Linked DNA regions of Homo sapiens. The protein of the gene in region 1 interacts with the protein of each later gene in a biochemical or structural test. Each region holds a gene or a part of one and is shown on either strand. Other genes may lie near its edges. The genes, in order: PRKCE, UGT1A7, ADAP1 and GAD2.

What was found.
Region 2: of the proteins of PRKCE (region 1) and UGT1A7, one has a biochemical effect on the other in vitro, tested with the Homo sapiens proteins (one study listed by IntAct).
Region 3: of the proteins of PRKCE (region 1) and ADAP1, one has a biochemical effect on the other in vitro, tested with the Homo sapiens proteins (one study listed by BioGRID).
Region 4: of the proteins of PRKCE (region 1) and GAD2, one has a biochemical effect on the other in vitro, tested with the Homo sapiens proteins (one study listed by BioGRID).

What each region holds. Positions count from the first base shown.
Region 1 is NC_000002.12:45,654,648-45,661,996, forward strand, and holds part of PRKCE (protein kinase C epsilon type), read left to right. Parts: intron 1-7,349.
Region 2 is NC_000002.12:233,677,222-233,684,908, forward strand, and holds the start of UGT1A7 (UDP-glucuronosyltransferase 1A7 precursor), read left to right. Parts: upstream 1-4,679; 5' UTR 4,680-4,716; coding exon 4,717-5,571; intron 5,572-7,687.
Region 3 is NC_000007.14:951,588-959,818, reverse strand, and holds the start of ADAP1 (arf-GAP with dual PH domain-containing protein 1), read left to right. Parts: upstream 1-5,138; 5' UTR 5,139-5,341; coding exon 5,342-5,423; intron 5,424-8,231. UniProt on the Homo sapiens protein: GTPase-activating protein for the ADP ribosylation factor family. Binds phosphatidylinositol 3,4,5-trisphosphate (PtdInsP3) and inositol 1,3,4,5-tetrakisphosphate (InsP4). Regulates the incorporation of CD63 and CD9 into multivesicular bodies.
Region 4 is NC_000010.11:26,289,502-26,296,850, forward strand, and holds part of GAD2 (glutamate decarboxylase 2), read left to right. Parts: intron 1-2,963; coding exon 2,964-3,071; intron 3,072-3,400; coding exon 3,401-3,490; intron 3,491-7,349. UniProt on the Homo sapiens protein: Catalyzes the production of GABA.

The DNA.
Region 1 (7,349 bases):
AACTGTGAATTAGGTATGGCAGGTATTGGACAAACTAAAAAACTTGAGATAGAGAAGCCCAAAGTCTGAAGGATGAGTCAAGCAGTGGAGCAGGTTCAGAATGCCCATCTGTTTTCACCAGAGGATGCTGTAGCCACTCTGGTTCCTCCAGGCTGAAGGTGGGGACTCATTGGCAGGGGTGACTGGCCCCTGGAAATGGAGACAAGTTGCAGCTGGGCTAAGTTCACCTTTCCCAGTCTTAACATTCAGGGTAAACCCATGGTTTCATAGCTTTGGGTAGAATTCCCTGGGCTCAGGTCTCTTCACTCCTTACCTGGCAGGAATGAAGAAACACACCCTTCTCAGGTGTGGCTGAGAGATCTGGCCTGAAGTAAGGGGATGTGGATAGCATAAAGCAGCCGTTTCTCTCATTTTTGCGGAACACCGAATTCTGCCGCACTTTGAATTCACTTGTATTCCTGGAGTTCCTGTTTTGTGCTCATGTCTAACCAGGGAAGCTTCTCACTGTGGGCCATCCAGAGGAAAATGAGGCCCTGGGTTACTCTCAAGGGGCTTCCATTTCACCAAGGAATTGACACCAAGTACCCACATATACATCAAGCTTGTCTAACCCATGGCCTGTTAGCCACATGTGGCCCGGGATGGCTTTGAATGCAGCCCAACACAAATTTGTACACTTTCCTAAAACGTTATAAGTTTTTTTGCATTTTTTTTTTTTTTAGCTTATCAGCTATCATTGGTGTTAGTGTATTTTATGTGTGGCCCAAGACAATTCTTCTTCCGATGTGGCCCAGGGAAGCCTAAAAGTTGGACACCCTGATGTAGACACTTAACTAGCAATTAGGTTCCACACAGGTGGTACCATTAGTGTGTTAAGAGTTTAAAAAGGGAGTGTGGGCTAGGCACTGTGGCTCATGCCTGCAATCCCAACTACTTGGGAGGCTGAGCTGGGAGGACCGTTTGAGTCCAGAAGTTCAAGATCAGCCTAGGCAACGTAGTAAGACTCCATAACTACAAGAAACTTAAAAATTAGCCAAATCTGGACCTGCGGTGTGGTGTGTGCCTGTAGTCCCAGCTACTCAGGAGGCCAAAGTGGGAGGATTACTTGAGTCCAGGAGTTCAAGGCTGCAGTGTGCTATGATCTGACCATCAGGCCACGGCATTCCAGCCTGGGTGACAGAGTGATACCCTGTCTCTTGAAAAAAAAAAAAAAAAAAAAAAAAAGGTAGGGAGAACTGGAAGAATCCAGGAGGGTTTTTGGAAGGAGGCATGAGCTGAGTGTGAAACAGTAGGTTATATTTAAAGAGGTATCTACAAGAAGGAGCAGTGTTCCTGGCATGGCCACCGCAGGAATAAAGGCAGACAATCCTGTAGTCAGGGTTGGAGAATGGATGAGCAGGACAGAAACTGAGTGTACCTGTCAGAAAGGAGTGGGCAGGACAAGGTTTCCCAAATTTAAGACTTTTTTCTGAGTACTGCCTGTGCTTTCATTTACTTAATATTTAAAAAATTGATTCTTTTATTTTCCACGTAGTCTTTTCTTAAGCCCCACTATTCATGAAATCACAGGTTTGGAGCATGTAGTTATAACTTTTCTTTGTTCACATTAAAATAAACAGGGCTCTACAATACAGAAACAAAGTTCATTCCAAGTGCCTCTGAACATCATTAGTGATGTGGGGCCCACACTTCGGAAACATTGGAGTAGGAAAAAGTTTAGAAAACTGAGGTGAATTCTAGAATGCGTAAAAGCCAAGCTGAGATAATTATTCTCCAGATAATGAGAGATGTTTCAGTTGTGATGACAAAGGAGGTTGCTTTAGAGAAAGCTCATTACAAAGAGAAGGAAAGATTTTGCTGATGCTTTGAAGTAAAATCTATTATAACACTATTGCTATAGCTGGGTTTTCCAAGAACCAGTTAATAACGCTACTCAGACTTTCATGTACATAAGAATCAGTAAGGGAGGGCATATAAAAGATAGATCTATATAGATTTATATAGATCCATATAGATAAAAATATAGATCCTCTGGCCCAACCTTGAGAGCTTTTGATGCTACAATTTGGAATAAGCTGGGAATCTACATTTTTAACCAGCTGTCCCAGAGATTCTGACCAGACCAGGCTTGCTTTGAGAAACATTGGGCTAGAATAGAAATTGCAGGCCAGAGAGGGCTCCAGATAATTAATGGATCAAGCATTTTTACATAGATATGTCCTGAAATGTGACTGTATAACTTTATAATTTTTAAAGAAAGATTTAGAATAATAATTGTGTGAACTAGAAGTATTGGGATTCATGTTAGAAGCAGAGGCTGAATGAATGCTGGATGGATTGGCATTGCATTTAGCACAGGGGTGGGAGGCAGGCGGAGCAAGGATTAGGGCTTGAAGGGCTGCATGCAGGTGACAGCTAGCTGGCTCGTTCACATTTTGGATTTTTCTCTATCATTGCTTCAGTAGTCTACACACTGAGCTCAGTTTCCTCTTTGTTCTACTGCCCTGCCTCTGAAGACATCTTTGGCGAATGTCACTCCCTTGCTGTATTCTGTAGAAGAGGCAGGCACTCAGAATCCAGAGGTACAGAAAGCCATCATTTGAGAGGTGATTCCCCGGAGCAGCGAAGTCTGGAGTCACACTGCTTGGACTTGAATCCCACTTCTACCATCTACCACTTTCATGACCTTTAGCGAGTGACTTAACCTTCCGTATTTCCATTCCTTCCCCTGTACAAAGTGGGTGATAATAAATATACCTCCCTATAATGAAATGGGTTTACTGTGGGGATTAAAATGAGTTAATACATGTACAATGCATACACCAATGCTTGGTCCCTAGTAACTGCTCAATGCATATCTACTATAATTATTATTATTATAGCCCCCAAAATGAGCATGGGGCTGGCCTAGAGAGAGTTTTTGACTGAATTGATTATTATATAGGCCACGAGAAAGCTAGGTTTTCATATTCTCCAAAGTAGCTCTCTTCAGTCTGGCCATCTCATTTGGCAAAGAATGGGACACTAGAAGTGTCATTTCTGGTTTGTATTTCCCAAGTAGCCCATCGGCAAAGCTTTTCAAAATGATGGCACCCCTGCTGACTCTGGGAGATAGGCCTATACCCTGTTTGGACTCTGGGAGATAGGCCTGTACATCATTCGGAGAGGTTAGGCTCTGAGGCCGTTCTCCCTTGGCCCACCAGAATCACTTGGGGGAGATTCATGCAACACAGATGCCAGGGCACAGCCTCTAGCAGTGCTGATTCTGATGCCCCGAATGGAGCCTGAGTTAAGCAGGACCCCTGCTGCATCTCCTACAATGGCAGCCTGACCGCACTTTGATATATGTTACTCTAGAGCACATCTCTATCTTCAGGACATTTGTAGGAAAAAATTTTTTAAAAGGATTTCTGAAACCTCCATTGTCATTTAAACACAGTGGGGTGGGAAGGGACTACTAAGGGGGTAAGGAGGTAGGGAAGGGCTGGCAATTGTCCATACCTCCTTCGTGTGCGCCTATACCCTGAATTATTTCCCCAGCAGCCAAGGGTCCCTGGATCTCCCTTTCCCCTACTCCCATAATACCATGTAATCCAATATTGCTCTCATTGGTCCATAGCTGGTTGTTTAACAACTACCCAAAGGATTCATTCTTGGCCCAGTGCTATCACAGACAACCTCTTGGCATTGGGTCCCTAGAGTTAAGGACCTGAGTTAGCCTTCAACTTCATGGACAGTCAAGCGTTGTTTGAACTGTTTCTTCTTCTTAGTGTCTTTGACCAGCAGCAGATTTAGTGAATATTTGAGACCCTGAATTCCCTGGCTCCTCAATGGACCGCTCTCCCTGGATTCAGTGAGTTCTAACTGGAAGGCATCTCCACCACTCACTAGTTGTGTGACTTTGAGCATGTGACTTAGGCTTTTTAAGCCCGTTTCTTCATCTGTAAAATGGAAATGTCGTAGGTCTTGACTTTCAGAGTTGCTATGAGAATTAAATAAGGAACTATAAAGCTTGTAGCAAGTGGTCTGGCTATAATACATTTCAGCAATTTTATTAATATTTGAAGAGTCATTTGTGTGTTCATAGTTTTAGAATCTTAAATCAGAACATATGGTCCAGTGAAATATATTTTTCTCCTTGATTTGTGAATGTATTTATATGAAAAGTCTTACATACTCTAAAAATAAATTTGACTTAGTTATACTTAACAAATTGCCCTTTGGAAGATAATAGAATTACTTGAAATGAGATTGTTCTGGAAAGTCTAGAAGCTGCGGTCATTGTAGACAAAGGTTAATTATTTATTGAAGAGGTATGGGTAATTGGAAATGAGGATATTTGGGAGCTGGTGTTTTGGTTTTACTGTGCCAATGTCATCTAGTTTCATGGATTTAAATACACTTTCAGTGCTGTTGACACTAAATTCCTAATTCCAGCTCATGCCTGACCCTGAACTCTAGACTTTATATATGGGATTGCCTTCAGGTCCTCAGCTTTCATTGTGTAAAGGGCATCTTAAACTCCATATGCCTAATATTGTATACCTATTTTCCCCTCTCCTCAATCTAAGCCCTTCTTCCTCAGCTTAAGAAATGGCAACTCCATCCTTCCAATTACCCAGCCAAAAACCTTGAGGGGCCATCCTTGACGCCTGTAATTCTCAGGTGCCCCATATCTTATCCATCAGCAACATCTGCTCTTTCTGCCTTCAAAATATATCTCAGATCACATCCTTTCCATACCTTTGCTGACCTCACTTGGGTCCAAGTCACTATTATCTCACACCTGGATTATTTCAACAGCCTCTGAATTGCTTCCACCTGTCCTGGCTTCTCAGCTCCTGTCTCTGCTCACAGATCTCTCAGGTGAGATTATCCCTTACCATAATTTACAAGACCAACAAAGTCAGGCCTTCTGCTGTGACCTCTCTGACCCTATCACTTGCCACTCTTCTCCCTGTTCATTCCTCTCTAGCTATCCTGACCCACTTGACACCCCTTAAATGCACTTACCATGCTCCTGCCTCAGTCTTTACCCTTGCCATCCCATTTTTTTAGAATGCCCTTTTCCCAGATATCCACATGGCTCAAGTCTTCGCTCAGATGTTATGTTCTCAGTAAGGCCTTTTCTGGCAATCCTATCTAAAAGTTCACCCTCTTATTTTATGCTTCATATGCGCCTTTCCTGCCTTTTTTTTTTTTTACTCTTTACTCTTACCTCTATCTGATACGCTATTTAGTTTTCTTATTTATCTTTGTTGTTTATTTCTAATACCAGAACACCAGACGCTCTATAAATGTAGAGCTTTTTGTTCACCGCTTTATCTCAGCACCCAAAACAGTGCCTGGCACTTTGTTGAATGAATGAATAAATTGTTGAATGAATGAATAAATTTCTTGGCACATTGTTGAATGAATGAATGAATGAATGAACACAAAACAAGTGTGTATTTCTATAGTACCTACTATGGTCTAGCACTGTTGGTAGATATGGGGTTTGGTAACACAAAAGTTGTGTATGTGTAGTTCCTGCCTCTGAGGAGCATGGCATCTCGATAGAAACCAGTTGAATGAATTTCTTAAACAATCCTTCTGTACAGTTGAAAGAAGTGAGGAGGAGGAGGAAGGAGAAAAGGATATTTTATTTTATAAAAATCTATGAGATCCCTGAAGATGTTCTTATGAGAGAATGCTATATTATTTCCACATAGCAATTTGCATCAAGCTGAAGAATCTCCGTCAAGTCTGAATTTCCCAAAAGTAGGAATTTTCTACCCTCTGAGTGCCCAGGGCCCATTCCAGGTGCCATGGTGAGGGAAGAAGAAAAAGGCCCACTTGTCCTCCATTTGCAGAGTTTAAATGAAGTTCAAATTCTCATCAGGGCTTTAGATACAAAACCCTTTGTAGTTGGCAGCAACAAGAAACGAAATTTCAAATTCCGGCGCCTGAACTCATAGAGCTATTGAAGCATGTTCAGACAAAGCTTCCAGGGGTTTCACTTAGGCTAAAATAACTCCAGAGCAGGCCTGCAATATTTTACATAAATAAAAGCTACACTTGGCAAAACATTATATTTCTCTCCAAGTTCCTCTGGGTATATATGGGCTTGTTAGTAATTACAATCTATTATAATGCTAATCAGCATGGTTGCACCTGTTTGAGATTTAGTTTTCTGTCAGAAACCATGTGAAGTGGCCAAAAGTCTGTACTGTGCTGGGAGAACCAGGAGGACAGGAACATACAATTCATCGTAACTCACTGACATCTAAACAAAATTGAAACTCCAGAGGAAATATAACTGAAATCTGTAATACTGTGCTGGGGAAGAGGAGGAAAAACAGAAGCCTATCATGAAACCCAGATGCTGAAATGAGGATCTCCTCTCTCCTCATCCCTGACCTCTACCCCACCTTGAAGTCTCAAAGAGGTAGTTTTATGTTAGTGAAAAGTCACCTGTATTTGCCAGCAAGGAGTAGACTCACTGAGCTCCTGACCCCAAGAGATAGATAAGACTAAAAATGTAATCAAGCTTAAGAAGAGTTTTTTAAAATTTGAGATGGAGTCTTGCTCTGTTGCCCAGGCTGGAGTGCAGTGGCATGATATCGGATCACTGCAACCTCTGCCTCCCGGGTTCAAGCGATTCTCCTGTCTCAGCCTCCCAAGTAGCTGGGATTACAAGCATGAGCCACCACACCCGACTAATTTCTGTATTTTTAGTAGAAACAGGGTTTCACCATGTTGGCCAGGGTGGTCTTAAACTCCTGACCTTAAGTGATCCACCCGCCTCAGCCTCCCAAAATTCTGGGATTATATAAGAGAAGTGAGCCACTGCGCCTGGCTTCAAGAAGAGTTTTTTTTGTTTTGTTTTGTTTTTTGTTTTTTGTTTTTTTTTTTTTTTTTAGAAGGAGTCTCGCTCTGTCGCCCAGGCTGGAGTGCAATGGTGCCATCTTTACTCACTGCAAGCTCCGCCTCCCGGGTTCACACCATTCTTCTGCCTCAGCCTCCCGAGTAGCTGGGACTACAGGTGCCCGCCACCACGCCCAGCTAATTTTTTTTTTTTTTTTTGTATTTTTAGTAAGGAAGGGGTTTCACCATGTTAGCCATGATGGTCTCAATCTCCTCACCTCATGATCCACCCGCCTTGGCCTCCCAAAGTGCTGGAATTACAGGCGTGAGCTACTGTCCCCAGCCTAGAAGAGTTTTAAAAAATCATGATGAGTGAATCTAGAACTAATTATTGAGGAGAAAAATAGTCTTTGATTTTGCTTATGTCCTTTTTGAATAGATTTGTTTTTTCAGACTATGGCATCTTTTGTTGCCAGTCTTCTTTCCCCAGGCAGATATAAGCA
Region 2 (7,687 bases), about 190 Mb from region 1:
ATGTACAGTCTTTCACATCCTTTGTCAGATATATCCCTAAGTATATCATGTTTTTGATGCTATTTAAGTGGTATTTTTAATCCAGTTTTCAAGTGTTCATTGCTAGTATAGTTGACCCCTGAACAATGTGGGAATGAAGGGGACCAACCCGTGTGTAGTAGAAAATCCGCATAGAACTTTTGATTCTCCAAAAACTTAACTACTAATAGCCAACTGTTTACCAAAAGCCTTGCCAATACCATAAACAGTCAATTAACACATAGTTTGTATGTTATTAGTATTATATCCTGTATTATGACAATGCAGCTAGCTAGAGAAAAGAAAATGTTATTAAAAAACGTAACATATGAAAAAATGCTCAACATCACTAGTTACCAGAAAAATGAAGATGAAAACCACAATAAGATATCATCTCACACCAGTTAGAATGGCTGTTATTAAAAAGTCAAGAAATAATAGATGCTGGTGAGGCTGCTGAGAAAAGGGAACACTTGTACCCTCTTGGTGGGAATGCAAATTAGTTCATCCCCTGTGGGAAGTAGTTTGGAGATTTTGCAAAGAACTTAAAACAGAACTGTCATTCGACCCAGCAATCCCATTACTAGATATATGTAAAAAAAATCGTTTTACCAAGAAACACATGCACTGGTATGTTCATTGCAGCTCTATTCAGAATAGAAAAGACATGAAATCAACCTAGGTGCCCGTCAACAGTGGCTTAGATGAAGAAAATGTGGAACACATACTCCATGGAATATGCAGCCATAAAAAAAGAATGAAATCATGTCCTTTGTAACAACATGGATGCAGCTGGAGGTCATTACCCTAAGGGAATATATACAGGCACAGAACACCAAATACCATTGTTTTCACTTAGAAATGGGAGCTAAATAGTGGGTACTTTTGGGCATAAAGATGGCAACAATAGACACTATGGACTCCTAAAAGGGAGAGGAAAGGCTGCAAGAGTTGAAAAACTATTGGGTACTATGCTCAGTACTTGGGTGATGGGAGCAATCATGCCCCAAACATCAGCATCACACAATATACTCAGGTAACCTGCACATGTACTCCTGAATCTAAAATAAAAGTTGAGTATGTATAAGAGGAAGTCATTCATCATAAAGGTCTCCATCCTCATCATCTTCCATTGAGTGGGCTGTGGAGGAGGAGGAGTAGATGTTGATTTTGCTGTCTCAGGGTGGCAGAGGCAGAAGAGGTAGAGGAGGTGGAAGTGGAGGCAGGAGAGGCAGGTGCACTTGGTGTAACCTTATGGAAATACATCATAATTACTGTCTGTTTTTTTCTCTTTGATGTATTTAAAAATGCTTTTATACAGTACTAATCCTTCTTCCCCATTTGCTTTAGTTTCAGTGCCCATAAGGGTTCATGTCTTAATAGAAGTCAATAGCAGTCTTAAATAATTGGAAGCATTTCTATGAGGCTTGTATTGTGTAAGGCCAATTTTTTTTCTGGCACTGCTTCTTCTACATCTTCTTTCTCATCAAGTACTGATTGGAAAGCACTCATCTCTATCAGGTCATCTATTGATTCCCTGAGTGTGGCATCTATTGGCTCTTGAATTTCTCCAAGAGTCATATTTTGAAATACCTTATCCCCAACATTTTGTTGCTGTATCCATAATCCCTTCATGACTTCCTTGATTGGCTCTGTCATAAATCCTGTGAAGTCATGTGCAACATCTGGTCACAGTTTTCTCCAGAAGAAATGTACTGTTTGGGGCTTGGTGGCTTTCAAAGCTCTTTCTATAATAACAGTGGCATCTTCAGTGGTGTAATCCTTCTGGACTTTCATGACATTCTCTATCCAGATTCTCTTCCATAGTATTGACAACCTTTTCCATAGAAAACTGTGTGTAATGAGTTCTAAATTTCCTTAAGACACCTGATTGAGAGACTGAATTAGAGATGTTGGGTTTGGAAGCACGTAGACCATTTTGACACCTTCAGTGTTGAACTTGTGGGTTCTGGGTGGCTAGGGAATGGTCCAATATCGAAAGAACTTTAAAAGACAGTCCCTTGCTGGCAATGCATTTTCTGCCTTCACGGACAAAGCCTTGATGGAACCAATCCAGAAAACGCGTTCTTATTGTTGAGTCCTTCTTTTTGTACAACAATAAAACTGTCAGTGAGTGTTGATCTTTTCCTTTCAAGGCTTGAGGTTTGGCAGTTCTACTGATGAGGGCAGTCCTGACTGTAAACTTGACTGCATTTACACAAAACAGTAGAGTTAGCCTATCCCTTCCTGCCTTACATTCTGGTGCTTGGTTTTCTTCCTTGCCAATAAATGTCTTTTGTGTCATCTTTTTTTTTGTTTGTTTGTTTTTGTTTTTTCCAGAATAGGGCACTGTCATCTGTATTAAAACCCTGTTCAGGCAGATATCCTTTGTCCTCAATGCTTTTCTTCATGGCATCTGGGAACTCATCTGCCTCCTTTTGCTTGGCAGAGGCTGGTTCTCCTGTTATCTGGACAATTTTAAAGCCAAACCTCTTTGTAAAACTAGCAAACCATCCTTTGTTGCCATTAAATTCTCCAGTTTTAGATTCTTCACCTCTCTTTTGCTTTAAGTTGTCATAAAATGACTTTAATTTTTCTCAAATCACATTGGCATCTATAAATAAGCCTTTCTTATAGCAATCCTACACCCACATTAAAGTTGCATTTTCAATATGAGACAAAAATGTATTTCACAAAAAGATGCGAGGTTTGGCTCCTGCTGGCATAGCTGCAGCAATGTCTTCATGAATCTTTTCTTCTCTTTTCTTTCTTTCTCTCTCTCTCTTTTTTCTTTTTCTCTTTCTTTCTTTTGCAATGGTCCTTATCTATCTTCATTGATTTTGAAATGGCAGGCAATCATAGCGGCAGAGCTCAATCTACGGTACCTATCAAGTAATTCAAGTTTTTTTGGTAATGTCATGATTTTTCTTTGCTTCTTGGGAGTACTTGCAGCATCATTAGTTGCACTTTATAGTCCCATGGTGGTATTCAAGGTTTAAAAAATTACACTAAACATGATGAAAAATACAGTAGAACCATAAGAGATCATTTTTTACTCTGACATGCAATTTACTAGAGAGAAGAAACGCGCAGAGGGTATAAACGTCATATCACATGCATTTAGGCCACACTTTAGCTCCCTGCAATAGCAACAGGAGGTAGCAACAAAATTATTATAGTAGTGTAGTATGTACTAGAGGAAAGTGACTAAGCAAATGTCTAGTACCAGTTAGGGTGTCCTGGAAGGAACCATCTTGTGCTTCTACAAGAATTATGCCCTGAGGTTGGCTGTTGAATCCCTCACGAAATGCTCCTCAGTGTGTTGCCTAACACACACTGCTGAGCTCACCCATTAAAATCTGCATGATGGAATTCAGCCCAATGCAATGAGAATTCCCATGGACTTCCTCTGTGCAAGGCAAAGCATGGGTGCTGTGGAAGGAGGATGAAAACAGGTAGAAGATGTAATCTCATCCTCAAGGGGTGCTCGGTAGAATGGAGGAAACAATACATAGATTCCTGAAGATGAGCACCAAAGTGATTGGGGTGGGCCCATAGCAAAGGCCTGCAGCTCTGTTCAGAATGCAGAAGCAGAGTGGGCAGAGAGAGACAGCTCATTAGAGTGCTTGGGCAAGCATAGGGACGGCGACTCACCACTGCAGACAATGTATCTGAGGAAAGCCATTTAAAATAGGTGACAGTCACATTCCATCAAATTTCTGGAAGGGTCCATGGAGGCAGGGTTGTCAATCTCATTACAGCATTTCAGAGGCCTCAGAAGATTTGGAAATGAAAAAAGACAAGCAGCACTTGTGGCTCACCTGTGTCACAATTGTGGCTCACCTGTGTCTCTGCAATGCGCAAGTGAGCTGTGTATTGCAGAGACACAGGTGAGCCGCAATTTCCTCCCAGTTAGGAGGTCAACGCTAAGACCCTTGCTCTCTTTCCGTCGAACATGAGATGCCAATTTCTTTCTGGGCAGAGGACAAAATAAAAATTGTCTATAAACTTTGGCCAGGTGTAGTGGCTCACGCCTGTAATCCCAGCATTTTGGGAGGCCGAGATGGGCAGATTGCCTGAGCTCAGGAGTTCGAGACCAGCCTGGGCAACATGGTGAAACCCCGTCTCCACTAAAATACAAAAAGTTAGCTGGGCATGGCAGCGTGCGCCTGTAATCCCAGCTACTGAGGCTGAGGCAGGAGAATCGTTTGAACCCAGGAAGTGGAGGTTGCAGTGAGCCTAGATCTTACCACTGCACTCCAGCCTGGATGACACAGTGAGACTCCATCTCAAAAAAAAAAAAAAAAAAAAAAAATTGCAAATTTTTCTTTGTGACAAATTCCAAAATTATTAGCTTCGTTCAAATTTACTTTCCTTTTTATCTTTCAATGTCGTCAAGGCCAAAAGCATTGCTTAATAATTTTGTTTCTAAACTCATATTGCAGCACAGGGCATGATCTGTCCCCAAGGCAAAGATGATGAGTTACTCTTTTCTTGAAAACATATAAGCAGGTATCTCAGCAAAGGCTACTCATGTATTATTATGAGTAAATCATTGGCAGTGAATGTGAATTTTTTTTTAAATGAATGAATAAGTACACGCCTTCTTTTGAGGGCAGGTTCTATCTGTACTTCTTCCACTTACTATATTATAGGAGCTTAGAATCCCAGCTGCTGGCTCTGGGCTGAAGTTCTCTGATGGCTCGTGCAGGGTGGACTGGCCTCCTTCCCCTATATGTGTGTCTACTGCTGACCTGTGGCTTTGCCAAGGCAGGGAAGCTGCTGGTAGTGCCCATGGATGGGAGCCACTGGTTCACCATGCAGTCGGTGGTGGAGAAACTCATCCTCAGGGGGCATGAGGTGGTCGTAGTCATGCCAGAGGTGAGTTGGCAACTGGGAAGATCACTGAATTGCACAGTGAAGACTTACTCAACCTCATACACTCTGGAGGATCAGGACCGGGAGTTCATGGTTTTTGCCGATGCTCGCTGGACGGCACCATTGCGAAGTGCATTTTCTCTATTAACAAGTTCATCCAATGGTATTTTTGACTTATTTTTTTCAAATTGCAGGAGTTTGTTTAATGACCGAAAATTAGTAGAATACTTAAAGGAGAGTTGTTTTGATGCAGTGTTTCTCGATCCTTTTGATGCCTGTGGCTTAATTGTTGCCAAATATTTCTCCCTCCCCTCTGTGGTCTTCGCCAGGGGAATATTTTGCCACTATCTTGAAGAAGGTGCACAGTGCCCTGCTCCTCTTTCCTATGTCCCCAGACTTCTCTTAGGGTTCTCAGACGCCATGACTTTCAAGGAGAGAGTATGGAACCACATCATGCACTTGGAGGAACATTTATTTTGCCCCTATTTTTTCAAAAATGTCTTAGAAATAGCCTCTGAAATTCTCCAAACCCCTGTCACGGCATATGATCTCTACAGCCACACATCAATTTGGTTGTTGCGAACTGACTTTGTTTTGGAGTATCCCAAACCCGTGATGCCCAATATGATCTTCATTGGTGGTATCAACTGTCATCAGGGAAAGCCAGTGCCTATGGTAAGTTATCTCCCCTTTAGCACATTAAGAATAATCTGGCTTTGGAAATTAAAAGATTTCTTACAGAATCATAATTTATCATTTACATTTGTCCCATTTGGAATTTCTTTCTGGTTTAAGGAATTCTTTTGTACCAATTCACTTAATTGTTGGGTAGCAAATTGTATAAAGCAGCTCTTGTTGATATGTAAGTGTATACAATTGATATAATTGTAGATCATATCTAGGCTGCAATCTAAATGCTATTTTTGGAAAAATACAAAAAAACCACAGTAAGAAATGAAACTTCCCTTTTTTTGCTAATTCTACACTACCCCCAGAGGAAAATATTCTTAGCAGTTTTGTGTGAATTGTTTTCAATTTTTTTGAAATTATACTATGTATATGCATATATTTAGGGTAAATTGTCACTTCTATTTTATCAATATAAAATCTACTATCATGCTGGCTATGTTTTTTTATGTTAGATTTTTCTCTTGTCAATAAGTTAAAGATATCTTTACAGGTCAATGCATACAGATTTGACATGTTCTTTTAATAATTGCATGGTAGTCTTTACTTTGGATGCAATGTAGTTTTCCAACCAATTAAGATTGATAGAGATTTAAGTGTTTTCCACTTTTGGGGTTTATGAGCAATAATAAGAATTCTTGTATACTTTCTTTACATTATATATATTTTCATATTTTTGCTTTTATCTCAGTAGGGTATCATCCTATGAGTATGGTTGCTTGGTTTTCACTAAATGAGTGAGATTGGCCTTCTTTTGCTATTACATCTTCCTACTCAAGAATATGAATCCCTCATTATTTATTCGGATTCTGTTTTATTTCCATAAATAAAATTTTGCACTTTATAAAAGTATTTCATCTTTCTTATTAACCTTTATTCCTCTGCATTTCATTATTTTTGAAACCATTATGTGCAAGGCAATTTTCCCATTTCTCTTTTGAATTCACTATGCATAATTAATGTACTGCTTTGAGTTTTACACATTTATCTTGTATGTAGTCATATTACTAAACTCTCGTATTAGTATGTAAGGTGTATTAAGTATGCAATATCATCTGCAAATTATTCCCTCCCCTGGTATTTATACCTCTTATTTTGGCGGAGCATATAGTTCCAAAATATTATTAATATTGTTGGTCTAGCCAGCTTAAATTAGGATTTGGTCACTTGCAATTGAAAAAGTCGTGACAAATACAAGAGTAAGATTCTTGGCAAATGCATAGTTGCTAAATCCAGGTGAAACACCTGGTGTCTGATCTAAGTATATTATTTTGTTAGGGATGGAGTATACATTTTTATCTATTGTTCTGGCTTCTTACAAAGTTCAGTAGACTTTGTAACACAGTCACATTCTCTCTCATATTGGCAGATGTTTGGTGAAAGAGTGACTGTTCAACCAACTCATGGGAAAATGCAACCAAGCGCTTTCTAAAAATCAGGGAGACTACAGTTGTAGGCCTTTCAAATGAAACATGACTTTCAGCTCTTGGCAAGACCAGGCGAGGAGATGCAAGTTGTAGGACGCTAAGAGGATAGACTTGTCAAAGTGTCTCTCCCCTGTTTACCCTCCATCAATTACAGCACCAGCCATCACTCAGGTATTGCCTGCAGCCTCACCCTCTAGCCAAGTGTGTGGCCTGCCACTTTCTGAACCCATGCTGAGTTTGTTGTGGCTCAAAGGGTCACCCAAAGGGATTTAGAGATGTAGAAATTATATATGATTCTATACCACCTATAATGGTATATGATAGAGAGATCTATAAAATATGAAACATTGAGCCATATATAGTTTTACATATTTTGGTTATTTGTATATCTTCAGTGGTGTATAAAATATATGCATTTATATGCCTTTAAGGAATATACATATGATAGGATTTATAGATGTGGAAGGTTATGTATTAATGTATATATTTATAAATAGAAAATAAATATAATTATCAAAGAAGAATTCAGATCATAAAGAGTGCCCTTTGGCAAAGAGCCCTGGATATGGCTCAACCACAAAAGTAAATTGTCATAGAAAAATTTATGGACACTGTATAGTGTTCCTTTCTTGTTTCATATGGGCAGGGTGTGTCTTGGAAAAGTATACAGTTTTTTG
Region 3 (8,231 bases), on another chromosome or scaffold:
AGCCAGGCGTGGTGGCTCACACCTGTGATCCCAGCTACTCAGGAGGCTGAGGCAGGAGAATTGCTGGAACCCGGGAGCGGAGGTTGCAGTGAGCCGAGATCATGCCACTGCACTCCAGCCTGGGTGACAGAGCGAGACTCTATCTCAAAAGAAAAAAAAAAAAAAGAGAAAAGGAAAGATGCTGCTGAGAACACTCGTGTCCAGGTGCGTGTGGACGTGTTTTCTGCCGTCCTCGGGCGCATACCGGGGAGTGGGTTTCCAGGGTCCCACGGTAGCTCCATGCCAGCCCGTTTTCCAGGGCGGCTGCACCGTCTTACACCCACCAGCGCTGTGGGAGGGGCCAGCTTCCCCCATCCTCACCGGCACTGTCTGTCTGTAAATCCTAGCCTCCCTCCACCGGCCCCCCGCCAGGTCTTCACTGCATCCTGGTGTGATTGGCATTTCCCTGACGACTAATGGTGCTGAATATTTCCGGTGCCTGTCGGCGGCTGTGTGTCTTCCTTGGGGACGCATGTGTTCAGATTCTTTGCCCTTTTTTTAATTGGTTCACTTGCCTTTTTATTACTGAGTTGTATGGGTTCTTTATAAGTAACTGTTTCTTGAGGCTGCACCAATTTGGGTGTGAACTTTGTAAACACTACTGCCCGATGGTCGCTGCGGAAAGGGGCCAGGGCTGGTGGGGGGAGAGCACCTCCCGGGGTCCCGCGTCGGGTCTGGGCCTCCTCCCCATGCCAAGTGCGTGATTCCGGCCCCCGAGGACCCTGCTGGTCCCAGGCCTCAAGAGATGGCACCTGGGGAGACCTGGGCCGTGACTGGAGTGGTCAGGCCAACGCCAGCTGCCCAGCGGGGGAGGAAAGGATGGGGGATGGCAGGACCCCTGCCCGGGCGCAGTGCCCAGCTCCATACCTGCCACCAGCCCGTCGGTTATGGGGATGGCTCTCCACGACCCCCTTCTCCACTCCAGACCCCATCTCTGTTTGGAAAACCAAGCAAAAGATATGTTCAAATGCCCCAAAACCCAGTAAGCCAACCTGTGCACCCACCTCCATGGCATGACATCTTGGGGAGGCCCCTGAGGACTCCCTGCTTCCAAAGGGGTTTCCGGGTCTAGCCCCACTCCCAGAAAATTGTGCTGAGACCACCTCTGGTCCTGGGTGGTTCCCCCTCCCCTGCATTTCGGGGCGCAGTGGCTATTTCTGGGGAATCCCCGTGTCTCCTTTAAGCCCCTCCTGAGCAGAGCTCTTTAGGATCCGTATGCTGCTGAACTCCTACTCCAGGTGCCCGAGGGGTGGCAGGGCCCTCACAGCAGTCAGAAGGCCCAGGAGGGTCTGCGCAGGGCCAAAGGCACGTCGCAGAGGACAGGGTGGAGGCCACAGCCAGTGGGCTTCCCTGGAGGGGGCCGGCCACATGGGGGCCCAACATCACGACCCCCATCCCCACAGCTGAGGCAGGTAGAGCCAGGAGCTGCCCACCCCTGCGCTGAGCCTGGATGTTGAAGACCCCTGCTTGGCCTGCAGGGCGGCCTACTGAGCTCACGGCCATCGTGCCAGACGCTGTCCAAGCGCAGATAATTTGACTGAATTAGCCCCGGCCCCTGTGCGGGGTGGAGAGGGAAGTGAACCTCCACAACCTCCCCTCCCCTGAGGCAGCTCCTGGTTGAGCAAGCTCGGCTGACTGTTGGGCAAGATGGTCGCAGAGCAGGGCCCAGCCCGGCCTCAGTCCATTTGCCCCTTCCCTGGGGAGAGCCCCCTTCTGCCTGTGCTGAGAGGCTCACCCCGCAGCTGCAGGCCTGGGAGGAGCCAGCTTCCAATCAAAGTCGCCTGCTGGCCTACCACGCGCAGGCCCCGTGCTCAGGCGACGCTGGAGGAGCTCGCCCTGCTCTCGGGAGCCCCCTGCCCAGGGTCTGCTGTGTGGCCGAGTGGTCACAGGAGGCGGCTGCCTCTGGCTCTGGACTAGGGAGATGCTTGAGGAATGAGTGTCAGGGTCCCTGGTGCAGCCGTGCGGGTCAGTGACAAGGGGCAGGAGGCTCAGCAGAGCTTGTAGGCCACTGGGCATGAGCAGGAGCAGGCACGCCGCCTGTCCAGGCCCCTCGCCAGCCGCTGCTGGCCGGAACAGCCTTTGACCAGCACTGGTCTGGGTCTGGCCCACCCTGAGCTATGCTGTTACCTTCCGGATTCTTCCTGAGTCCTGGGCTCCCCTACTGCCCCGCCCAGCCCTGACCACAGCCAGTCAGGGCAGCAGGATTTCAGGACGGCTGTGCTCTCGGGTCCAGGCAGGTACTTGCGGATCTCGGCCGAGCAGCCTCCTCTTTGGAAGAATCCCCCTCAGCCCCGACATCTCTTAGATCTGAGGGGTTCACCCACCTCTGTCTCATCCTCACGCCCTCCTGCCCCCCGAGCAATGCCACAGTTCCCTTAGCGGGATGGAAGGACAGAGAAGGCAAGACACTCGCCTGCTGGAGCTGCCCCACGGAGGAGGCCCCGGAACAGCAGGCAGTAGATGGCCTTGGCTTGTGCCAGAAGCTCTGGCCTGTTGGGCACCGGCTCCCCTGAGGCCTCCCTGCTGCCTTTTCTATGCCTTGTATGATGGCCTCCCCGTCTTTGGGGACCTTGGGTAACGGCTATGTTAGGGTGTGTTGCTTTGTTATATTGTTTTATGTATATTCCAGTCCTGAGGTGTGTGGCCTCCAGCAAGGGATCGAACCTCCCCGTGCCTCAGTCTTCCCAGCTGAAAATGGGGCTTTAATAAGAAAATACATGTCGGCCGGTCGCGGTGGCTCACGCCCATAATACCAGCACTTTGGGAGGCCTAGGCAGGCGGATCACGAGGTCAGGAGATCGAGAGCATCCTGGCTAACACGGTGAAACCCCGTCTCTACTAAAAATACAAAAAAATTAGCCGGGCGTGGTGGCATGCACCTGTGTCCCAGCTGCTGGGGAGGCTGAGGCAGGAGAATGGTGTGAACCCGGGAGGCGGAGCTTGCAGTGAGCCGAGATCGCACCACTGCACTCCAGCCTGGGTGACAGAGCAAGACTCTGTCTCAAAAAAAAAAAAAAGAAAAAAGAAAATACACGTCAAGCCAGGCGTGGTGGCTCAGGCCTGTAATCCCAGCACTTTCAGAGGCTAAGGCAGGCAGATCACGTGAAGTCAGGTGTTCGAGACCAGCCTGGGCAACATGGTGAAACCCTGTCTCTACCAAAAAATAAAAATATACCTGGGCATGGTGGCACCCATTTGTGGTCCCAGCTACTCAGGAGGCTGAGGCAGGAGAATCACCTGACCCCAGGAAGCAGAGGTTGCAGTGAGCTAAGATCGTGCCACTGCACTCCAGCCTGGGCGATAGACCAAAACCCTGTCTCAAAAAAAAAAAAAAAAAAAGGAAAAAAAGAAAAGAAAAGAAAAGAAAATAGAAAATACAAGTCAGGCTATTTCTCCTAATACCTAGTGCTGAGCTGCTGCTATTAATGTTCGTCTGTCTTTATTAGGCGACATTCTCCAAGCTCATGCTGTGTGGTGGATTCCGAGCCTGGCACAGGGACCCAGAGATGAAAATGCCACCTGTCCCCACCCCAAAGCCTCCCGTCTGAGGGAGGAGAAAGACCCATGTGAACGGTTACAGGGAAAGAGCACGTGATGCCACAGGGCACAGATCCCAGAGACACAGACCAAAACGGGCTGCCGCGTTCTGCTTCAGGTAGACAGAGCTTAAGCAGCTCCATGATTCCACGTCAGCTGGAGCAGGGGGACAGGTGCCTTTGGTGGCACTCTGGTCAGTGCAGCCTCAGTGGAGGCCATTCCACATCCCATACCATTGCCCCAGCGATGCCACTTTGAGAGCAAATCCACACAAAACTCTTGCAAAGATGAGGTTGTGTAGACCATGATTCTGATGCATTCAAAACGCTCTAAATGCCCCTATGCCAGTGACTGGGTGAACAAGTCATGGTTCAGTTGAACTTTTTTTGAGTTTGTTTGTTTGGTTTTTTTTTTTTTTTTTTTTTTTTGAAACGGAGTTTCACTCTTGTTGCCCAGGCTGGAGTGCAATGGCGCAATCTCGGCTCGCTGCAACCTCTGCCTGCCAGGTTCATGCGATTCTCCTGCCTCAGCCTCCCAAGTAGCTGGGATTGCAGGCATGCGCCACCACGCCTGGCTAATTTCTTTGTATTTAGTAGAGACGGGGTTTCACCATGTTGCCCAGGCTGGTCTCAAACTCCTGAGCTCAAGTGATCCACCCGCCAGGGTCTCCCAAAGTGCTGGGATTACAGCCGTTAGCCAAAACCCTGTCTCGATAAATGAATAAATAAATGAAAGGCTACAGGCCTCAGACGTTCGTTCTGGAAGGTGCTGAGGAATTTGTTAACAGTGGTTGCCTGGAAGGCAGTGGGGAGAGGCTTTCCTTTTTCAGTCTGGTATGTTCCAGTTTGTTTTCAGCCGGGTGTACTGCATTAACCCTGCAAGAAGAAAATGGAAAGAATTTGAAAAGATGCTGGGGTGTGCAGAGGAAGGGCACGCGAGTCTGGGAAGAGGTGACATCAAAACCAGGTTTTTTGTTACCTGTCAGCCCCCATGTGAAGTCCCGGCGGGGCCCCTCAGCCTGCCTGAGTGGGAGGGGTGCCCAGAGGGTCCCATCTGTGGGTGGTGGGCGGCTGGGTGGGTCTCAGGGGGAGGCTCCGTCTGGGCCCTGTGTGGCCTCAGTGCCCTGGGACGCTGGCGTTTGTCACCTGCTGGCCGTCCCTCCCAGGCAGGGATGGTGTGAGCGCCCTGGTCCTGGTCCGTAGCACAGGACACGCACACCTGCCTTCCACGAGCACCCCCATGCCCATGGTCTTGGGGGGCTCGGCAGGTGCCCTCTGCGCCCCCCACAGTAGGTGTGCAGGCTCCGTCCCACCGCGCGCGGCGGCACGAGGGTCCCACCCAGGCCGGCCAGGTTTTGGGGCGGCCTCGCGCCCAGGCAGGTGGGACGCTGCGCGCGGATGGGGGGCGGGCGGCGGGCGATTTCCCAGCGGGTCCCCGGGGCGCGCGGGCTGGGGGCGCCGGAGCGGCCGAGGGAGGAGGCCACACGCTCGCCTGCACCGCTGGGGGCCGCCCGCGGGCCTTGCCGGCCAGAGCGCAGCGTGCGCCCCGGGCCCCGCGCCGGCACTCGCTCAGCGACCGCGGCGGAGACACGAGCGGCGGCGGCGGAGCCCAGAGGGCGGCGGGAATGCGGAACCGGCGCGCGGGCTGAGGCCGCCCGGGATGGCGCAGGGGCGGCGGCGGCGGGCGGCCTGCGCGGGGCCCTAGCGAGCCGGGCTGACGCTCCCGGCCCCGGCCCCGGCATCGGCATCGCGGGCGCATCGCGGCCATGGCCAAGGAGCGGCGCAGGGCGGTCCTGGAGCTGCTGCAGCGGCCGGGGAACGCGCGCTGCGCGGACTGCGGCGCCCCGGGTAGGTGTGGGCCGGGTGGGCGCGGGGCCGGGTGGGTCCGGGGTGGGCGCGGGGTGCCGGGCGGGTCCTGGGTGGGCCCCGGGGACCGGGCGGGGGAGCGCGGACGCCGCGGGGGTGGCGGCGCTGAACACCGGGCCGGATCGGCGCTCGGATGGGGCCCGGGCCCGGCTGCACCTGCGGGGACCCGGACGTCTTCCCGGGCCGGGCGCAGCGGGGGGGCCCCCCCCAGGACCCCCGGAAACCCCCCTGCCGCCGCCTCCCCTCCCCCGCCGGGCTGCGTGTCTGACGGTCACCGCGGACCGCCCGCCGCGTTGCGAAAGCTCGGGCTCCGCACAGAAAGAGGAAATCGGGGCTGGCTGCAGGGAGGGAACGGGCCGCCAGCCGGAGGTCTCTGCTGGGCTGTGGGGTCCGCCGGCTCCGGGGCCACCTCGCGGTGACGTCATGCCTCACGCCCTTCCCGCACCGGGGGTCCCTGGGTGTGAGCGGCGCCCCTGCCCCCGGCTCCCTGCACCTGGCTGCTCCGGGGCGGGCGCCAGGACAGGTGAGGCCTGGGAGAGGTGGGGCCGGACGCAGGTCCTGGTCCACCCGCCGCCCGCCCGTTCGTTCTCCCGGCCGGGCATCCCTGACTCGGTTCCCAGGTCTGTGGGATTTCAAGGCACTGGAGTCCAAAGGCGCGGAGTCCCTCCCTTCCAGGCCACTGGTCCTGTCATTGGCTGTGAACGGGGCCCAGTGCCCAGACCAGCCCTGCCCTGCTCGGGAGCTGTCAGCCCCAGGCCGGCTGCGCTGTGGAGAGAGGGCCCCGCCGGAGCAGTCCCGCCACCCCAGGCACACCAGGAATCTGGGGGCCAATAGTCTAAGCCCCTCGGAACAAACCTAAACTCACCGGCGGTGACTGAGGCCCCCAGGGAGGGAGCGGGGGAAGACCTTGCATTTGCCTCCAAGGCCCTGGTTCAATATGCAGCCTCTGGACACCCCGGAAAAAGGGGTGTCCCTGATTCCCTCTGGGATGGAGGGGTCTCTGCCAGCCCCAGGTCGTGGTGGCTGCTGTCCAGCTGCAGCTTGGCTGGAAAGGCCACATCAGGAGCTGGGGTGTCCCAGAGGGGAGATAGCGACAGGCTTTTCTGGAAAGACAGGCAGGACCCACGGCCTTTCCATGGTCTCCTGAGACAGGACGGCCACAGGGCCCGTGCAATGGTGCGGTGGGGGTGGCCCCCTGGGCTGGCTCACCCCAGACTCTCTCCCCACAGACCTTTATTTCCTCCTGTTCAGGAACGCTCCCCAGGAAAGCCAGTGGGAAAGGGCCTGGCCTGGGGTTGCTGTGGCCCACGGGGAGGGGAGCTGGGCTTGCCTCTGAACCTCTGCTCCCTGGCCACACAGCCTGGGAGCAGCTTCTCTGGACTCAGGGCCCCTCTCCAGCCACCCTCTGGGCCTCCCAGCCTGGCAGGAGGAAGAGGGGACTTCCTTGGCCTGCTGGGTCCTTCAGTGGTCCTCCCCTCCCAGTGGGTGCAGGTGTGCCCGGCCCACCTGCTAAGCTTCCAGCCTGGCCCACCCCAGAGCTGTTCTCTGCCGTCCCTATGCCCCACGCTGCCGGGTAGAGGGCCGCACCTCTGCCTTTTCAGAATCTGTCCATGACCTCAGTGACTTGTCTCCTCTGTCGGGTAGCGCCATGGAGGGGGGATGCTGTGAGGGGTCACTCTCATTTCACAGCCAGGGAGACTGATGCCTTGCAAAGGGAGCTGTCTTAGGGGACATGAGCCACACCCGGCCGCTCTGCTTGTCCCCGCTCCCCAGGGCTGTGGCCACAGGGTGGAACAGGCGGTGTCAGGAGGCAGGGGGCTGCCTAGCCCCCCATGACCCCATGGCACATCCTCGAGGGCTCTATGCTTCTTTGCTGATGCCAGCTGCTCTGGGGCCTCCTGTACCTGCTGTGGCCCAGCTGGGTGACAAGGAGCCACTCCAGTGTTGATGGGGGCTGGGGTGGCCGGCACGTTCTGCTGTCCTCAGAACACTGTCCTGTGCACTGGCTCACGGCTGGTGCAGACCTGGACAGCAGGACATCAGACAGTCCCAGACCACCTCTGAACGCCAGGCCTGGGGCTGCTGGGGTGGACTTGAGCAGGCCCCACCCACTGGCCGTGTGAGGGAAGCAGTCTTGGGGTCTCTGCGGCCCCCACAGAAGCTCCTTCCAAACTCTCCCCATGACCTGTCCCAATAGTGGGTTCCCCTGACCTTGAACAGGGGGCCTCGCCCGGCGGCCACCCAGAGAGCCTCTCATCACAGGCCTGGCAGGTGGGCGAGTTGGGGCGTGCCTGGACCCACTGTCCTGCAAGACCTGGGTGGGGGTCTCCATCCTGGGAGGGGGTTTGGGGGAGGGAGGGGTGCCTCCGTACATCCTTGGAGCTGCCTGCCAAATCGCAACAGAGGACAGGGACCGGGCGCGGTGGCTCACGCCTGTCATCCCAGTGCTTTGGGAGGCCGAGGCCGGAGGATCGCTTGAGGCCAGGAGTTGGAAGCTGCAGTGAGTCGTGATCACACTCCAGCCTAGGCCAGAGTGAGACCCTGTCTCAAAAAAAAGAAAAACACACATATTGTCCTCTTTGAGTCTCAGGCCATCTGATGCCCCGGAAGGACTGGGGTGTCTGAGCTCTTTTGTTCTTTTTTATTTTAAGGTCTCGCTCTGTCACCCAGGCTGGAGTGCAGTGGCACAATCTCAACTCACTGCAGCCTCTGCCTCCAGGGCTCAAGCAATCCTCCCACCTCAGCCTCCTGAGTAGCTGGGACTACAGGTCCATGCCACCATGCCCAGCT
Region 4 (7,349 bases), on another chromosome or scaffold:
TCCAAATTAACTTGATTAGAACCAATTTATGCAAAAAATAAGACCCCTGATTTAGGTTGCTAAGCGGCATACTAGCTGGTTAAGATATGGATTTTTATTATCATCAGCAAAGGCCCAGTGCCTACCGTTGACTCTCCTCTTACGGAGTTGGCCTTTCATTTTGTCTGCATTTTATTAAATAATCCTAGGACCTAATGATTATTTCCCAATGTTGACAGATTTCTACGGTGGCTAAAACTCAGTAGCTAACAAAAATAAGTAAATAAACTTAAAATTACATCTCCCCCCCACCTTTTTTTTTTTTTTTTTGAAATGGAGTCTTGCTCTGTTGCCCAGGCTGGAGTGCAGTGGCGTGATCTCAGCTCACTGCAGCCTCCATCTCCCAGGTTCAAGCGATTCTCCTACATTCCCTTTTCAGGCCTGCAGGAATAACTTCATTTATAACAACCAAGGTTTCATAGCAAATCTCTGTGTTTGTATGTAGTCATACAAATAGTCAGTTTTCCTTGTGGTTTTTTTATGATTAGCTTTTCTAATTAAAAATGTGGATAACAGAGGGACTGGCAAATGGCTGTGAAAAAAAATACCAGGAAAAAAATATTAAAGGGAAATGGACATCTGGCATCCTTTGCTGAAAATGAATGTTTACTTTCTCTCTAAAATATTAATTTATTTTAACAAGTAGATATTCAGCATCTATTATCGTGTCTAGTACTGAATGGGATAAGAAGGCTCTCATTTTCCAGACAAGATAAGATAAATGCACAGAAATCCATCATAAAAGACAGATTAGGACTGATCACAAAAGAAATCCAGACACATCTGGGGAATTTAAAGGACGGAGAGCTCATTCCTGGTTTAAGAATCAAGATGATTCACAAAGAGATGACCTTTGAGATAGGACTTGAACAGGATAGGTAGAAGAAGTAGGATTTCACCCAGCAGTGCTGTGAGAAGGCCATTCCACGGAGTGGTTGAGCAGGAGTTCAGTGCATATTATGAAAGTGAGGGAAAGTCTAATTGACTGAAGGGCGACTTGGGAGCTATGTTCCAGGTGAAAAGTAACAGAGCCTGAACTAGGGTGATAGCAGCAAAAATTGAGATAACAGCAAGGGATTCGGTAGTTATTTCAAAAGCACTGTCTCTGGGGCCTGTGAATGTTTATAAAAGCATTTCAAGAAGTGGAGAATGATCATGACCAGCTCTCAAGATGTCAAACCCCAAGACCACATAGAGGCAGCAGCTGAACACTTGGATGGTGAGATTGCTGAAGTATTTAATGAATGAAAGAATTTTGAAGAATCTCCTAAAAGCCTTCAAAACCTTGAAAATAAAATGTGGATCTTAATCCCATAAATATTCAATATGAACGGGAGGCACCCAGGGCACACTAGAGTTTTCTGTGTCATTCCCCATGTATATCTTTAGCCCCCAACTAAAGGGGCAGTCACATGGCCCATGATCATCCCCATAGCAAGGTCCCAGACCAGGGGAACCAGAGGTCTTTAGTAATCCCATTGCTGTTGCAGTGCAAACTCTTCTTCATGGGAAATCAGAGAGGCATCATCATTCCCATCTGATCAGAGAGTTGGCCAAAGCCATTCATCTGGACAGGGTCAGAGGCAAGCTGGTCATGCCATATCCTAGATCAGATATGCAAAAGTTTAAACCCAACTCCAGACTGGTCCAAAGGATCCAGGTTGGAGAAGAGCAATTAGCTTCCCTCACTTCTACCTACAGTCCATCCCAAGTGAACCCAAACTGTCAGGTCATTCCAAACCAATTATAATCTCCTTAGCACCCATAGATGCAGAGAGCTCCTGGTATGGGTGCTGGCCAAGCATCAGGCATCAGCCCAAGCTCTTCTTGGGGAGGCATCAGGAACCCATCAGCCTCCTTGAGCCGATTACCTGGGGGAGCAGTCTCCAAAGAAGTGAATTTCTGAACCCATTTGATATCTCCAGGGCAGCTTGTTCTTAAACCTGCTTCAGATGTCACAAGTCACTGGGCTATGTTGGGCCCCCTTAGCTGAGATGATGTGATCTTGTATGAAACAGGCAAGTGGGCCCATCTCATCTCCATTACAATTGCTTTCTCTAGGTTCTCTGCTGGAGAAGTTACTGGTAGGCAGGTTCAAAGTGCTTCTGAGATGAGCACTGGCTTTTACTCTTAAGCTTTCTCCATCAGCACCCAGTAAACACCCAAGGAGATAAGAGGAAAGCCATTTTGAAAAGTAACTCTCTTGTGTGTCCCGATGTCAGTTAAACAGCTCCAGTCCAAGACTGTTGTGTTGGTTTTCCCAAGTCTGGATTCAGAGCTTCCAGAGCCAGAAACTAAAAGAAATCAGTGATAATGTTCACCCATTACAGACACGTGAGTCATTTATCTGCCCCCAAAGGAGAACTGTACAGAGCTCGACAGGCTAACAAAGCATCTGGGTGCTCCCTAAAATTCCTGCATCCATTTGTTCAATGAAGTCAGTGAGCACCTACCCAATTTTTTCTGTATCAGGTACACTGGCAGACAAAGATGGGCTCTGGGAATGGAAAATGTGCACGTTGGAGGGGAACTAAGCAGGCATTCTGGGGGGTCTCTGGTGATGCTTTTTATCTGCAGGAAGAGAGTAGCTCAGCCCTCCTGTTATTAATGACTTCCATGATTATTCCTATGAATAGCAGAGGCACATTTTCCTCTTGAGTAGTCAAACTAATTGCCTGGGGAATGGAGGCTCTGGAAGAAAAGGAGTTCCGTGTAGAAAGCAGTAATGAAAGGGAACAAAAGCACCTGACGGGGAGAGCATTGAAGAGAAAATAGCGCTGAAAAAGCCTTTGGAAACAGCCTTGTGTTGAGAAAGTGCCAGACGGGGCTAAGACAGAGACGGCAGGATGACGGTCAGTCTCCAGGGAAATCGCTTCCTCCGCACTCTTAGCCTGCTTAATGAGCTGTGTCCTTCTCTTACCTAGGGGACTACCGGGTTTGAAGCGCATGTTGATAAATGTTTGGAGTTGGCAGAGTATTTATACAACATCATAAAAAACCGAGAAGGATATGAGATGGTGTTTGATGGGAAGGTATGTATTTGGATTTCTACAATCTCAGAAAGTTTAGTCAATTCCAACCCTCATCACTGATATGATGTAAATGATGTGCTGTCCAGGTAAGTGGGACGATTACAGAGGGGAGCAGTGGATGACGGGGTAGCTATTCCAAGCTGGAATAAAGACGAAACTCTCAAAGTGGTCCATATAACGTTGTCAAAATCATGCCCTCCAATGGCAATTCCTGATTGAAAAGTGGGAATTGTGTTCTGAACCTGCTGAATACATCGATTTGAAATGTTCTTGGAATTTTCAAAATTGCCAGCCTGGGCCAAATGTGAATCTTCCTTTCCTCTTTGTAGCCTCAGCACACAAATGTCTGCTTCTGGTACATTCCTCCAAGCTTGCGTACTCTGGAAGACAATGAAGAGAGAATGAGTCGCCTCTCGAAGGTCAGTGCTCCAAGCTCCTCTGATACATGTGTGTATTGAGCCTTTCATGTGCACATCTTCTTTATGACATATGCCTGTGGCCTTAGGAGACAGCCTACCTGGGTACATGGGCCCATTCCCGTCTGTGGACTCCTACAGAGCCAGGACATATAGAGCCTGATATATGCAGACATTTTTCTTCTTTTTTTTTTTTTTTTTTTTTTTGAGATGGAGTCTCACTGTGTCTTCCAGGTTGCAGTGCAGTGGCGTGATCTCAGCTCACTGCATCCTCCACCTCCCGGGTTCAAGCGATTCTCCTGCCTCAGCCTCCCGAGTAGCTGGGAATACAGGCACTCACCACCACGCCCAGACAATTTTTGTATTTTTAGTAGAGATGGGGTTTCAATATGTTGGCCAGGCTGGTCTCGAACTCCTGACCTCAGGTGATCTGCCCACCTTGGCCTCCCAAAGTGCTGAGATTACAGGCATGAGCCACTGTGCCCGGCCTATGCAGACTTTTAACAACTCTATTTGCTTGTTTTCTGAGAGTGAGTTTATGATGTCTTGAAAGAAGTAGTCAGGCGATAACCTTTGCTGGCATTCACAAAGCAACAAGGACGTTGCTGAAGTTCATTGATGTTCCAAGTGAAACTGGTGCTCAGTTACAAGCACAAAAGAGACTTTAGGTACCAGAAATGGTTAGCAAACAACGCTGCTGCTGACCCTCTTGAGCTGCCAAGGTCAAGGCTACCCTGGGTGTGTCCTTAGAGCTGTGGTGACCCCTAGAAGGTAAGAGGGCAAAGAGCAATAATAACAGCCACTGTTTTGAGTGTGCATTGTGTCCCAGCTCAATATCAGGTGTTAGGTCACTTAAAGCCTCAGAGCAACCTGACATGGGAAGGATTGTCCACCCATCTTGCTGATGGAGAAACTGACCCACAGGGAGAAAATGTAACTCCCAAAATCTCGCAGAAAGTCTGCATCCGAGCCTAAGGGCTTGAGCTTTAAATGGTACTGTGGTAAGACACCATTAATCTTTCATCCTCTCCTGCTCCCAGCACTTATACATGGGTGAAATGGGGTTTACAGTGCACATCGAAGCGGGGTATATGCAGGACCTGTCCCCCATTCGAAACTAGGGATGGTCATGTAGACTTGGATCTCAGAGTTGATTTGGTTGGTTTGGGGGTTCTTTTCATTTATCATAAAAGAGGGAACCTCCTCCAGTCACTGCCAAGAGCCCCGCAGGCTGTCCCCTCACTGCTCAGGAGCTTGGGCTGTCTCACTGACCTTTGGGAACACTTTAGTTCCTTCTACGTAAAATGAAGAAGAGGATTTTGTGTAGATATAAAACCTTCACTAAAGCTTTTATGTGTTAACATCTGTCCTTAAGCAACCCAAGATCAAACTCCTCATCGGGAGGAAACTTCCATATGGCTGAGGTCTTTAAACCAAGCCTCCTAATTAGAGTAGTGATTTGCAATCCTGGCCATACATTAGAATCATCCAGAAACTTCATAAAAGACACTAGTGACCAGGTCTCACCCTGAAAATGTAATCAGATTGTGCTTGGATGGGCCTGGGAATGATTCTGGAAGTTATCTAGATGATTCCAATGTGCACCTCAGCTAGAGAACCCCTGATCTAGAGGAAAAAATGGAAGAAAGCTTCTAGAACCAGGATCCGTGGTGCATGTGTCTGAGATGGAAGGGGCTGTGGTTGTGTTTGATGATTTCGTGAAGTTGGTTCATTCCAGGAAATCAAGCCCACAGGGTGGGAGGGAATGAGTAGAGGTCGCATTGGATAAGATGATCGGTGCAGGCAATAACAACGAGAATAGGGGGTGCGGGTGTCTGCTGTCATTTGAGAGGAAAAAATTCTTATTTTTCCTGGAATTTTTATGGTATACCTTCATAATGTAAAATTTCTTAACAATGACTTATTTAACCAGTTAGAAATTAGATGCCTCCATTCTTTTTGGCTTTCACTTCCTTATTGAACTGACTGGCCAGAAAGAGAATCCATGGACTAGTTTGGCTGATTTCATTTGTTGAATCAGTCCATTATCACTGGGCTGAGGGATGGAGCAAGATGGGAATACAGAATAAAAACTTTTTTTTTTCATCATTTTCTGAACAAAAGTCAACTTGGAGGCTCCCCCTTTTAAATATCACTCTTCAAATGCCTCCTAGGTTTCAGCACCTCATATGAGCTGTAATGAAGAATGGGGATGGAGATTATTTCCTGGAGATGGCAATTAGAATATTAGTAAACTGTTTTTATACTGTTGACAATTCAAATATGAAAATCTCCGGGGATTGCAGAATGAATTCTCCTGATTTTTCTCCAATTTTATTACTGTAATCAAGAGAATTCAGCAATTCAGATTTGGAAATGAAAATAGAACCACATGAATACCAAGTTTAACTTTTGTTCACGTATGCCAATGATTTTTTCAGACTTTCTGGAAAGTTCTTTATTAAGTGTGACGCCCTTAAAGTATCATGTCCAGGAACCAGTAAAATATTCATACGCATGCACACACACACACACACACACACACACACACACACACACAGTCCCAGAGGGAAAAGAACTGAGGTGAAATAATCTATGCTGTCCAGTATGGTAGTAATAGCCACATGTGGCTATTCATATTTAAATTTAAATCAATTAAAATTAAATTCAACCAAAAATTTGGTTCTTCAATCACACTAGCCACATTTCAGTCACTCAACTTGTGCCCAATGGCTGTTTTATGGGACAGTGCAGATATAGAACATCTCCATCACTGCACAGAGTTCTGTTGGTCCAGGCCGATATAGACTCAAAATTTGGGGAAATGCAGAGTTTCCTGTGCAGTTTATGTGAACCAAAAGAACAAAGTTAAATTCTGGACAAGACAAGGCAGAGAAATTACTCTGTACCATCTTGCCTGATTCATAGCTGTAGTGCACAATAGGAACTCAAAAATCGTTTGTTGAGCTAAAATTGTATCTTAGCGTGGTTGAGCTGCAAAAACAGACTAATATAGACTGGGTAGCTTATAAGCACAGAAATTTATTTCTCACTGTTCTAGAGGCGGGGAAGTCCAAGATCAAGGTGCCAGTAGATTCCGTGTCTGCTGGAACCCCTACTTCCTGGTTCGTCAATGGCCTTTTTCTCCCTGTATCCTCACATGGCAGAAAGAGGTCAAGGGAGCTCTCTGGGGTCCCTAAGACTGTGCCTTCCTGAACTAATCACCTACCAAAGGCCCTATCTCCTAATATCATCACATTGAGGGGTTAAGATTTCAACATATAAATTTTGGGAGGACAGAAAAATTCAGTCTATAGCAAATACCTTAGGCATATTCCAGAATAAGGAAGGGAAACAACATTTAGGAAACCTAATAGTGGCTCATAAGCCTTTTTCCAGAGTGCACTATTTGGGGACAAATATCTGGATAACAGAAGTTATTAATAAAGCAAATACAGTCATATCTTCATGAGGGTGGTAAACACGAGAATCCAGTCAGTGTGCTTCCTGCTGCTCTGTCAGGACTATGATCTTGCAGATGGCGCTTTGTCCCTGAGGCAGTGCAGATGATGAATGCTTGGGGCACTATGAGGATGTGACGCCACACACATGCCTTGGACACAGGGAGGGGCAGCAAGTGGGCTGTGCCAATGTTTACCAAACAAGAATCAAAAGGGCTGGTCTATTGATCACCTCTTGTGTTTCTGGTTCTTTATCTTCTTATTTTAATTTTTTTTATTCTTGATCATTATCTGGTTCTGTCAGCTTTTATAGTCCTACACTGATTGGAGGACTTTTCAAAGGTTAGCAGTGGATTTAATACTAAATTTGTAAGGAAGTAGCCTGGACTTATATTTAATAC